Regions from separate parts of the Homo sapiens genome. Here regions 2 and 3 are each linked to region 1. The links come from fine-mapping of genetic effects on gene expression. A gene starts in region 1. Each other region holds a variant in brackets. All regions are shown on one strand. Distances are from middle to middle. Region 1 holds the start of VAV2 (vav guanine nucleotide exchange factor 2). Region 2 overlaps VAV2 (vav guanine nucleotide exchange factor 2). Region 3 overlaps VAV2 (vav guanine nucleotide exchange factor 2).

Region 1 (4,472 bases):
TGGATGGCAAGATCAGCCTCAGCGACACAGGGCACTACGTGCCACAGTCCAGGTGACGGTCATTTCCTGGGCACTGTGCGAAGGGTGTGCCTTCTGTGCCTGCCCTTAGCAAATCCTCACAGCATGGCTACGAGGGGACTGCTATGACTGTTCTCATGACAGAGATGGGGAAACTGAGGCTCTGGAGGTCGTTGCCTACCTGGGAGGGGACAGTGCCAGGATTCAATCAGAGCGGAGAGCCACACAGACACACACCCATCTGGTCCTCCTACCATCCAGGCCCCTACACGCCCTCCACGAGTCCGGCAGCAGGGCCCCTAAACACCCCTCTACCGGCCCAGCAGCGGGACCCCTAGACACCCGTCCACCCCCCAGCAGCAGGGCTCAAGGGGCCTCTGTCAGGGTTCGTATTGCTGCCTGGCCAATGGCTCCAGAGACCCCAGGAAGTCTCTGGCTTGAACTTCCAGTGCAGGAGCTGAGCCAAGCCACCTGCCACAGCCACGGCCCCCTCCTCTTCCCATCTTCCCAAACCACAGCTGGGGAGGGGCAGCCCCCGGACCCAGCGAGTCCACCAGGCAAGGCTGGGCTCCTCCCAAGCCTCCTCTGTGCGGACCCAGCTGCCCTGCCTCTGCCCTGAGCCCCAGCCTGCAAGCAGCAGGGAATCCTGCCCGAGCAAGTCAGCCTGGGCAGCCCCTGGAACTCATATCAAAGGCAGCCACCTTGGTTCGAGGCCCAGCCCTGCTCCCCAACAGCTACCCTTCTCCTCAGTTTCTCCAGCCATAAAATGGAGTCCAGACTTCCCAGTCCCCGTGGGGCTCTGAGAACAGATCCGGGGAAGCCCTCTGCAGCAGTGACCGCCACCCCCGCCACCTGCACCTGACCACTGACATCCTGCGGGAAGAGGCGCTGGCTCCCAGGGAGGCCTCTGAGGGCTCCTGCTAAGCCGGTCCAGGCAGTGCTGGGTAATCATTACCCAGTGGGAAGGCGGCCCCTTCCCCTCTGGGCTTGCCTTTGTCAGCGCCCCCCAACCCGGCAGAGAAAGGCCCGGTCTCCTAGGAAACGCAGTCACCGCCAAAGGGCAGAGGCCTCGCTGCCCAGCCTGGAATCGCTGGTGACTCACTCTCCCTCCTTCCCAGGAACCACGTCCTAAGTCCCACTGGTGAATGGTCCCTCTCCACATGGAGTTGCCACTGCGCGCGGTGAGGGGCTGCTGAGCTGGCTGGAAGACCGCACCTCCTCGGCGCTGGGTGGACCCGGCTGCCACCCGCTCTGCCTCCCCCGACCTCTTCTAAGCTGCTCCCGGTAAGGATTCCGCGACCCCCGGAGAACAGGACGGAAGCCTCGATTCTCTCAAGTCTTAGCCAAGTTCCCTCTTAAGAGGCCAAGAAAAGCAGCTTCGTTCGGCTGGGCAGGCATTTTCCTGCCTGGCCCTGCGGCCGCACGCGTGCCTCCGCCGCGACAAAGGCCACACTCAGCGCCCGAAGGAGGGGTGGGGGTGTTGGGAAAGCGATGGGGGCCAGGACTGGGGCCAAGTGGCCCTGGGGATCCTCGAGGCGGCTCGACCCGGGAGCCAGGACTGGCGCCAAGTGGCCCGGGTCCGGGTCCGGGAAGAGGCGGAGGCCGGCGAGGGGGCGGTGCCCGGGGCCAACCCAGCTCCCTCCGGCCCCGAGGGCTCCCGCCCCGCGCCCCTCCCGGGCCCTCCAGCCGCGCCCCGGGCCGGCGCAGCGACCGCGCCCGCTCTTCCACCGGCGTCCGGCCAGGAGGCGCGAGGCCCAAGGATGCGACCCACGACGCGCACACCCGGCTCGGCAGGCTCCCTGGGAAATGAGGGGCCACTCGCAGGGCCCCGCAGAGCGAGCGCAGCGCCGGAGCCTCCCCCATCCCAGGCCGCGCAGACCGCGGAACCGGCGCACCAGAGCAGTGCCCGCGGGCGGCGGCGGCGCGACCCAGGCTGAGGGGACTTTGGCCAACTTCGCGCCTCCTGAGGTCGCGTCTCGGAGGCCCGGGGCGCACCCTCCAGCCGCCCGCCCGCGTCCCGGAGCCCGGCCGCCCCAGCCAGGGCGCCTGGGCCGCCGCCGCTGCGACCTCCGCGTTCAGTCCGCGCGTCGGGCAGCGCGAACGCCGCCTCCCCGGGGCCCTCCCGCCCGCCGGGCGCTCACCTGGGACATCTGCGGCCGGAAGTTGATGTCCTTGAGGTCGATGGAGCCGGGGGAGAGGTTGTGCAGCAGCTGGCACAGAAGGACCCCGTCGCGCAGCGCCTGCGCCAGGTCGAAGACCACGGCCGAGGGCCACACCACCCGGTGGTTGGGCGGCAGGACCTTGCAATCGATGAGCCAGCGGCCGCACTGCCGCCACTGCTCCATGGCGCCCGCGGGCCCGACCGGCTCAGGGCAGTGCTCGAGCCAAAGTGCAGCGGCCGCGGGGCATCCCGCCCGCGCGCGCGCGGGGCTCAGGGCCGGGGCGGGGCTTCGCGCGGGCTGCCCCAGGTCCCCCGCTGCGCCGCCGTGCGTCCCCTCCTCTTCCTCCTCCTACTCCTCGGGCTCCTCTCGGGCCGCCGCTCCCGCCCACGTGCGGCCGCGGGGCGGGCAACGGGCAGCGCGCCGGATCTCCCCGCTTCACACACGCAAGTGCCTGCGGGCCCCGGGCCGGGCTCCACGCAGCCAGTCGCCGCAGCGCTCCCCAATCCGCGCCGCCGGGCGCCGCATTCTGCGCTCGGGGCGCCCCGCGGCCGCCGCGGCTCCTGCCCCGCCCGAGACAAAGGCCCGGCGGGGTCGCTCGCTCCGCGCGTCCCGGGCCTGGGCCGCCCGCGTCGCCGCCGCTTTGTTCGCCCCACCCGCAGTCCCCACGCCCGGCGCTGCGACTCGACGACTCGGCGGCTCGGCGGCTCCACGGCTCCGGGGCGCTGGGGGCGCAGGGGGCGCGGCCACGGCCGGGCGGGGCAGGGGCGGGGCCGGAGCACTCGCCTGGCACCTCCCCGTGTCCCAAGCGCCGCCCCCGCCCCCCCACTTCCTGCCCCGCTACCGCCCGCGAAAGTTGCGGTGGGCGGGGGTTGCGGCGCAGGCCCAGGTCCGGCCGACTTTCTCCAAGGGCGCTCGGACTTTGGGGAGCCCTTCTCCCTGGGGGAGCGACCTCGCCCGTGGAGTGATGGCCGGGCGTCCCCCCGGGTGCCTTTGGTCCTCCGTGGAGGTCAGGAGGTGGTCCCTGTCGCGCTGGGCGCCCTCGCATGGCCGTTCGGTAACGACAGACTCGGGAGAGGGCACCGGGCTGGGCCGAAGCTTACTGAGCCCCCTTGGCCCATCAAGCCGCCCCGGCGGGATACCCGAGGCTGAGGCTGAAGGCACACGGGCCCAGGACTCCCAGAGCCCTCTTCCTGTCCTCCGCCCTGGCCGGGGGCCCATAGGAAGACCCCCGACCCTGCATAAAGGCCAGGATTCCCCAGCTTTTGGCCAAAGTCCTGGCCACTCGCAGCTGCCCAGCGGGCAGTTCCTGGCGTCCAGGGCGGAATGCGTGACATGAGTGAGGGCAGGAAGGTGCTCTCCGGCCCAGGGTCGCAGCCGGCCCCGGTGCTGATCCGCCCTGATCTCCCTTCTAGGCCACACCCTGGGTGGTGGGGGCGCGGTCTGTCCAGCTGGCAACGTGTGACGGTAGGAGGGGCTTCAAGGACAAACAGATTCTGCAACTGAAATTATATGGATCCTGGCTCAGCTGCCGGGAACCGCGGGTTTTCACTGCTGATTCACTGGGGGACACCAGGCAAGTCCAAGCCCTTCTCTGAGACTGGCTCAGCCCGGAGGCTGGGGTGCGGTGTCTGAGGGCTCCCACCCTGGACTCCGGTGGAATCCTGGGCCTGTATGAGCTGGGGCTGCACTGCAGCCCCCGGACCCCTTACCCCGTGGCTTCCCTGCGCAGGGGCCGGAACGGGGATGCGAGCGCAGAGAGGGTCCCCTGGGCCCAGGGCCTCCGATGGGGGTCCTGTCCTGGAAATTGGTCTCTGCAGAGTCAGACTCACCCCTTCTCCACTGAGGTGGAAGCAGGGGGTCCCAGCTTAGGGTCTGGCCCGTAGAGAGAGGTCAGGAAGGAGCTGGCCCCTGCAGCAGTAAACTCAGGCCAGGTGGCTGGTGAGGCGGGGGCTCAGGTCTCTTGCCCTTCCCCGAGGAAGCAGCAGTGGGCACCTTTAGGGCAAGGGGGAGAGCTTTCCTCACCGAAGCAAGATGGGGCAGCAGGTGGACCCATCAGCATCTCCCTAAGAAATCAGAAAGCCAGGAGTGAAACCTGAGCGGGGCCCTCCAGCCCCATCTGAGAGCCTACACTGATCCCTCCTCCTGCAAAGCCTCATCCCCTCCTCTCTAGAGCGGGGAGACCCGGCTCCCACTGGACTTGCTTGTGAAGAATGGACGGATAAATTACCCAGAGGCTTCCCACTGTGCTGGGACAGAAAGGGCTCAGAGAGGAAGAAGAGCTACCCACTCTCC
Region 2 (4,000 bases), 36 kb before region 1:
GGGCACCTTTCCGGCAGGGAGATGCAGGTTCAAATCCTGAAGGTCCCCCACACCCACCCTGGGAAACCCAGCTCCCATGACCCCGGCTCCCAGGCCTGCATGTCCAACAGCTGCCTCCCTGTCTCCAAAGAAGGCACCTGGCCCGAGTACCCCAAAACCAAGACCTGTGGGCCTCCATCCCTAGGTGTCCTCCCTCTGCAGAAAAACCCACTGCTTGCCAGAGGCTACAGCCAGCACCTGACAGGCAGCGCCTCCCACCACCCCTTGCACAGGCAGGTGGCTCCACATGTGGGACAACCCACTGCACATGTGTGACATTCTTAAGATCCCAGCACTATACACGCCATGGGATGTAAAACACCCTTCTCAACGTGCAACAAACACGGCCGAAACCGTCACCGAAAGCACTGCGCCTGTCTGCTGCTGGGGAATCACTCCGTGGTTAGCACCCATCATTTCGAGAAGAAAGAGTCAATTGTGATGTTCTGTTACCATCCCAGTCATTTCCAGGGATTTCTGAGAAGCGGCATGTGCCTGGTGTCCCTCTGTCCATCTGCCCATCTGTCCATCCGCCCACCAGCACCTGCTGAGGGCCTGCGGCCCTGCATGCATGGCCCAGGCTGCCAAATCAGTTCTGTCACCATGGGGCGGCAAGGCACAAGGAGGAGCAAGTGCGCGTGAGACGCCCAACAGGAGAGATGCCTGCACTTCAAGGAGCTTTCTCGCCTGGTGCTGGAAAGGACCCAAAGTACTCAGTGCCGCAGCAGCACATCGCAAGTGCGCAGTGAATCTGAGTGAAATCCACGCACGCCTGAAGGCTTCCGGAGAAGGCATCGCAGGTCCAGCCATGGGAGGCTGGGGGGAGCGGGAGCTGTGGCACTGCAGCCAAGCACTTACATGTGCCACACACCTGTGGGGCGGGCGGGGGATGCTGCTGATGCTCGAGCAGGGCAAGGTCTGTGATGTGTGTGTCCTCATGTGTATGCGTGTGGGGTGCCCATGCACATACATGTGGGGGTGCGCAGGTGCTTAGGGGTGTACAGGCGTGCATGTGTTCATGTGTGTGCACATGTATGTGTGCATGCTCATGATGTATGTACCAGTGTATGTATGTGCAGTGTGTGTCTGCATTACGATAAATAAAGCTAAGCAAAAATACATCTGCAGGAGGGCAAGGACCGAGATAAATCATTCTGAACTCCAAACAGGTGGAGGGTAAGATGTAAACAGATTTTTCCTGTTGTTTAAATGTACTTCGTTTTCATTATACTGCTGTTTGCGTGCAATGAATGCAAGTGCACTGAGGTGAGGAAAAAGGAAGGCAGACACTCCTTCCTCCGGCTACCCCACAGACACCCACACCATGAGAAACTAGGGCACCCCTGCAGATGGGAGGCAGCGGTGAGGTCGCCTCCAGGCTCGGCCAAGGGTACAGGAAGGGCAGAACCTGACCAGGCCATTTCCAGCCAGACTCTGCTTCCTGTGGGGAGCTCCTGCCCCTTCAGGTCCTAAACCTTCAATCACCCAGATTCTGGGGACCCCACAGGGAGCAACATAGTCATGCCACCCTCCACAAGCCCAGCCAGGGAGTGTGGCCCCATACCCGATGCCAAGGCGAGGCTCCTGGCTGCGGAAGCTGAGTCGGAAGCACGGTCCCCACACTCCTCCTTACTCCCCGCCCACGCTCCTCCCCACTCCCCACACTCCTCCCCACCCCCCTGCTTCTCCCCACTCTCCCCATACTCCCCACTCCCCCTGCCATGCTGCCCCAACTCTCCCCATGCTCCTCAGTCCCTCCAATGCCCCCCAAGCTCCTCCCCATTCCCCACATGCTCCTCCCCACTCCCCACGGTCCTCCCCACCTCCTTTCTCCCCACTCCCCCCATGATCCTCCCCACACCCCCACTCCTCCCCCCTCCCCACCACGCTCCTCCAACTATCCCCACTCACCCCATGCTGCTCCCCATTCCCCCCAAAGCTCCTCCCCACTCCCCCACACTCCCCCCACGCTGCTTCCCACTCCCCCCACGCTGCTTCCCACTCCCCCCAACGCCCCCCCCACGTTCCTCCCCACCCCCCCACTTGCACTCCACTCCCACTCCTACTCCTCCCCACTCCTCCCCACAGCTCTGGCCTCCCCCAGCCCGAGGGGAGCCCTCTAAACCCTCCAGCTCAGGCTGCTCCGTGAAGCTCAGTTCCTGCCGCTTCCGCTCAGCACAAAGGCACGGCCCCTGCTGGAG[G/T]CCCCCGCTCCGGGGAGCTCTCAGACGGGCAGCCAGCACCTCACTGCCCATCTGCTCCTTCCCTGCTTACTCGCAGAGTCAAGACCTGGAGCCCACGGGGCCAGGAGGCACAAAGCACAGCTTCCCAGGTGACGCTGGACAAGTCGCTGACCCTCCTGGAGCCTCAGTTTCCCCAACCCAGTGGCTCTGAATGAATTCCCTGGATTCCTGAGAAGGAGGGAGCTTCCTCACTGGTTCACAGGGAGAGAGGGAGGGAAGGGGGTTCTGACAATTAAAAACAGGTCTGCAAGTCAGGAACTCGATGATCTCCAGAGGTGCCATGATCCCCTCGTCTACCCAGCCTCCCCTGGGCCCTGCAGCCCCTCCCTACCCTGTGACCCTCAGCCCAAGCCCCTGGGGAGGGTCTCTGGTTCTCAGCTGTGGGGTTGGGCCCAGCGGGTCTGGGGGCCTGGTGGGGAAAGGGTGTCTAGGGTACTCTGTCTTTCTACCTTTCTGAGTTGTTTCTTCTTTTGCTTTGTTTTGTTTCGTTTTGTTTTTTTTCCAACGAGTAGACATTACTTTTAGAATTTCTTAAAAAGTTATCTCAGCTTTGGGTTGGGTTAGGGAGGAGGGAGTCCTGGGAATGTATAAAAAGCACGCAGCCAGTTAGTTCCTGAGAAGTCAGAAAATGCGAAGATCAACTGAGAAGCTGTACTTTCTGGAAATTCCAGGCGAACCAGCACCAGGCCCCTCGGCTGGTGGGCAGAGCACCAGGGGGCGAGGGAGCGGGAGGGGGATTCCCTGCTGCCAGGCCAACAGCTGGGCCAGCCAAGGTCAGGAATGCTGCAGCTGCAGCCTCGCCTTCCGCCCCCACCCAGGCGGGAGCCCAGTGGGAGGGAGGCTGCCCCTGCCAGGGCCTGGGACAGAGCCCTCTGTGGGGGACAGGCCAGGCAGGAAACCCGGCCGTCCTCAAGCAGGAAAGCTGGGCCAGAGCTGGTACTTCAGCAGGGAGCTGAACTCCAGTCCTGGGCGCACCTGTTTGCAGTCACAAAAAGGGCAGACTGCAGCACCCACCCACCTGCCCAGCTCCCCACCCAGCTCCCCACCTGCCCGGGGTACCCAGGACTCTCTCCAACGCCACCAGTGTCTCTCTGGTTCCTCACTCTGTGCAAGCCTACCCTCTGGTGCTCTCCCGGTTAGGATGATCGTCCCTGCTTTACCAGGTGGGGAAACTGAGGCTCGGCCTGGCAGTTACGGGCCTCCCCTGTACCAGCTGCTGCAGGTCCGGTCTCATTTCACCAGGGAAGGATGTGTGCCCAGGACGCTGCTCCCTGGGATGAAACGGGTTTGTTTTTTTCTCCCAGTATAGAAATAACCCTGCCTGGATGAGGGCAGGGAAGTAGAATAACATGAAACCGACAAGAACTCCCATCCTAAAACACCACTAACCACTGAGGGCGTTTTTCTGTCGTCTCTTGACTCTGGGTTTTTAGGGGTTTTTTATGTGTGTGTGGTGTTTTCTACATATTTGACTACTGGGAATAATATGGCATATTGCGTCCTGGTGCCCCTTCGCTGACAGCACAGGTGTCCCAGCTCCCTGCCTCCCCGGCTGCAGGGCAGGGCGAGGAGGGGAGGCCAGGGACATGCGGGCCTGGTACCTTCCAGGGCAAGAGGGACGTCATCCCCGTGGGCAGAGCAGGAAATGGAGGAATGTTGAGTTCCCTGCACCCGCTGTCACCGTCACAGCTGGCCCCACCTCAGCCGGGACACCCTGCCTG
Region 3 (4,000 bases), 140 kb before region 1:
GTGTGGGCACATGAGCATATATACACACACGTGTGCACACACACACACCCATCTGCACATACACACACACTCCATGAACCTGCACACCTGCACATACACCCCCATCTGCACATGCACACACATACCCCTTGCACCTGCACACACACACCCCTTGCACCTGCACACACACATCTGCATATGCACACACACCCCATGTACCTGCACACACACAAATCTGCAATGCACACACACACCCATGTGCACCTGCACACATACATGCACTCATCTGCACACACACACGCACATACCCATATGCACACACACACACCCATGTGCACCTGCACACACACCCCCATGTGCACATGTACATACACACACGCGCACACCCATACACACGCACCATCTAACACAGTTTGTTCTGCCTAAACTTGGAGGCCCCAGCCATGGCTGGACGAATGCAAAAGAGGAGCAGTGGTGCGAATGAGGCAGTGACCATGCCAGGCCAGAGAACTGGGGCTGCCCACTGCTACTCCTCACTGAGTTGCCCTTGGCTTGTGCTACTGACCAGGGCAACAGAGGCCTGGGGTGTGGAAGAGGTGCCAGACTGATGGAGCAAGCCAGCTGGTGACTCGAGCCTACCCTTCAGAGAGCTGGCCGCTGTGACCAGAAGCAGGCTGGAGGGGGCCAGACCCCAGCCTCAAAGCCCAGCAATCCAAAGGTGGCCTCTTCTGACCTCCCCTCCCCAGGAAGGAGTTTAATGTCTTCCAATTACTCCCCTCCCACTCCCTATGCAGAGGAGGTTGAATCCATTATTGTAACGAAAGGAAAGAAAAGGAAAAAAAAGACTCTCCAATTAGGCTGGCCCAGGGACTCACATGTCATCCTGTCCCCTCACAGCAGACCCACTGAGGACAGGTGGCCAGGATGTTTGATGTCACCAGGTGGGACAATTAAACCCATCTTGCTGGCGGGATGAGCTGCTAAGCATATAATGACTGCCACCTTCCGTCCCCATCTCCTCTCAGCCCAATTACCTGGAATTAAGCAGGCAACACCAGATGGGAAAAGGGACACCAGCCCAGATGGAAGAAAAAGGGACACCAGCCCGGATGGAAGAGAGTGGAGAGAGCAGGGGATGCTGTGCCCAAGAGAGAAGGCTACAGGAGCCACAGCAATGTCTTCAAACACAGCAAAGACTCAGGGGAGAAGAGGCCGGGACTCGTGGGGCAGGACAAGGTGTTGGCGTGCGGACCCTTCACCTTGGCTCACAGTGTGCAGAGAGGATAGCACATTCGTTCACGGAGGTGTGGGAACTGCAGAGTCTGCCAAGGCCCATTCACGGAGCCTCCGGCTGAGATGTCTCACATGAGAGGTATTTGGTACCTTGTAGGTGATTTGGGAAGGCAAAACCAGGTTTGGGAGTGGAAGTCAAGGACGCAGCCCTCACCACTGCACAAACAGACTTTCTCATTATCAGGGCCAGCCAGCAAGGCACGGGGTTCCAGTGCTCTCCCGGCCACTGCAGGAGCAGAGGCTAAAAGGAAAGAACTCAGCAAGAGGCTGTCTCTGCAAGCTGCCTCCGTATCCCGGGAGGGCACCCGGCCTCTCCCTGCACGAGCCGCATCTTAGGTCTCGTTGCCCAGTGCTCCGGGATAAAGCCTGCCACCCGCCACCAGCTCCCCCCGCACATGGGAAGACCAAAAGGTGGGTCCTTGAAGCCATAAGGAAATGCGAGGTCACTGCTTCCAGTTCCTAATGCTTTGTCGTGCTTAGATTCAATACGGGTATGTCTGATATTCTGAGAATTCACTTCAAATTGAAGCAGGAAGTTCCAGCTTACTTCCATTTCTCTCACTCCAACCTCAGCCTGACCCCTGTCCCCTGCCTTGCAGCC[G/A]TCACAGCAATGCTAGTCACAGGAGCCAAAAGGTGGAAACAGGCCAGAGTTCATCACGTGATAAACGGATACGCAAAATATGGCCTAGCCACACACTGGAATGTTCCACGGCCATAAAGAGGAATGACGCAATGACCGGCTACGGCTGGGTGAACCTTGAAAACAAGATGCGGGGTGGGAGAAGCCACGTGCGAAAGGCACGCACCGTATGATTCCATGGACATGAAACATCCAGAACAGGCAAACAGAAAGCAGGCTGGGGGCTGCCTGAGGCTGGGGAGGGCGGTGACTGCTCATGGCGACCGGTTTCTTCCTGGGGTGTGAAGATGTTGTGAAAGCAGATAGAGGTGGTGGTTGCACAACATGGTGAAAGTACTAAATGCCACTGAATTGCGTACTTTACAAGGGTTACATTTATGTGATATGAATGTATTTCAATTTTTACAAGTCAGAAAGCAGAAGAGAGGGTGGCAGGGCTGGGCCAGGATGAGACAATCAAAGCCAGGAGCCCAGCCCAGTGAGGAGCCAGGGTTGAGCCCCAACCGGGTCCCCATGCTGGTATGTGCCCCCCACCGGGACCCCATGCTGGTATGTGCCCCCCACCGGGACCCCATGCTGGTATGTGCCCCCCACTGGGACCCCATGCTGATATGTGCCCAGACACGCCACATAGCTGGGCCTTCAGACAGCCTCCCAGCCAATCCAGGGGGCTCTGCTCCTGCTCTAACAGGTCACCAGAGAGTTGGAGAGTTGGTGGCTTCAAGCAACACAGACTCTTACAGTTCAGGGGGTCAGAAGTCTGAAGCGGGTCTTAGGGGCTGGCGTCAAGGTATCGAGGGGCTGGTCCCTTTCAGGAGGTGCCGGGGAGAATTTGTCCCTTACCTTTTCCAGCTTCCGAAGCTGCCTGCATTCCTGGGCCCACAGCCCCATCGCTCTAACTCTGCCGTCACATCTCCTTTTTCTGACTCTGACCTTCCTGCGTCCCTCTTAAAATTATGTGTATTTACATCTGCGAAAACCCTTTTCCTCGTCACACTCTCAGGGTTTGGGGGTTAGGACATCCACCTAGCAGCCGCGGGCCTTCCACAAGGACCAGGTGCTGCGCTGCACGATGCACAGACACAGAGCAACCCCGCGAGGCAGAGTCATGCTCCCAGCCTACAGAAGAGACAAAGGTTCCAAGAGCATCCCTGCCCAAGGTCATTTGGCTGACAGAAGCTTCCTTCATGGGACCTGACCTCCCAGCCTGAGGACACCTTTCGGTTTCCTTCTCAGGAAGTCCTACCCTTCACCATCTCCTCCCTCCCAGCCGTTCAGAGCTGTGATGACCCCAAATTAGGGCACCCCCAATCTGGAGGGCTAGCTCTGGCCACAGCAAGACCCACATCCCCACACGCCTCGCTGGGTGCCTTCCACAAACCCCTCTCCCACTCTACAACCACAATCCTCCCCCTTGCCCCGCTTCCCCAACACGTTTGATCCCCCAGCCGGCACCAGGGCGGGATTCTTAGATTAAGTCTCCAATTCATCAGCCTCTGAGAAGTATAATTGGGGCTTTTATGGAAAATCAGCTCATTATGCAAAGTGCAAGGGTTGTGAAAATGATTTTTTGAAGGAGCACGTTGGGCTCCTACCCAGCCATGAAATGAGGGAGAGATTCTTCAGGGCTGTGGGCTTGGCTTGTGGGTTTTCAAGAAGGAAAGGGTTGTGTTAAACTAGAACCTTTTGCTAATCACTAACACTACAAAACGCTCGAAATGAAATAGTGTCTTGTGAAGTGCTGGTGGCTGCCCCCAGAAGGTTCAATTCCCCATGGAAATCCCAGCCCATCCGGAGCAAGGTGGGACATTGCTCAGACGCAGCCACCAAGTGGGGCTGCCTGGGAGGGTTGCCTGTCACCTGTCTCCTGAGCTCCCGGGTGAGCGTGTGAACCAGTGGAGGTCTGCGCTCAACCCCAAGGGCTGCAGAGGGAAAGGACCCAGGAAAAGTCCCAGAGTGGGGCTCAGAGGAGGGAGGGTGGAGGAGAAGGGCAGGAAAGCCAGGCCCCGGGGAGGAGGGCCTGCAGAGGTCTTCCTGCAAAGCCTCGCTCTGCGCCCAGGAGGCCCTTCCCTTTGGCCTGCAAACACC

What was found. PIP is the estimated chance that this variant, and not a neighbour inherited with it, causes the effect.
Region 2: its variant is the best candidate, but not a certain one, in a credible set for the expression of VAV2 in whole blood (TOPMed, PIP 0.61).
Region 3: its variant is the best candidate, but not a certain one, in a credible set for the expression of VAV2 in whole blood (INTERVAL, PIP 0.77).

Annotation. Positions count from the first base shown.
Region 1 is chr9:133,989,916-133,994,387 of GRCh38, forward strand. It overlaps VAV2 (vav guanine nucleotide exchange factor 2), which reads right to left and starts at 2,409. Exons shown (of 30, transcript NM_001134398.2): 1 at 2,160-2,409. The coding sequence starts at 2,363. RefSeq lists enhancers at 1-723, 724-1,451, 1,452-2,179, 2,908-3,635, 3,532-3,721 and silencers at 1,562-2,001, 2,042-2,131, 2,402-2,551, 2,612-2,711, 2,812-3,121.
Region 2 is chr9:133,953,707-133,957,706 of GRCh38, forward strand. All of the region lies in intron 1 of VAV2 (vav guanine nucleotide exchange factor 2), which reads right to left. Among named protein-coding and RNA genes, the nearest start is that of VAV2, 37 kb to the right of the region's middle. RefSeq lists enhancers at 496-785, 3,492-4,000, 3,673-3,782, 3,833-3,882. The variant G/T (reference allele first, on the strand shown) is at 2,241.
Region 3 is chr9:133,853,988-133,857,987 of GRCh38, forward strand. All of the region lies in intron 3 of VAV2 (vav guanine nucleotide exchange factor 2), which reads right to left. Among named protein-coding and RNA genes, the nearest start is that of SARDH, 120 kb to the left of the region's middle. RefSeq lists enhancers at 1-429, 430-930, 3,511-4,000. The variant G/A (reference allele first, on the strand shown) is at 1,874.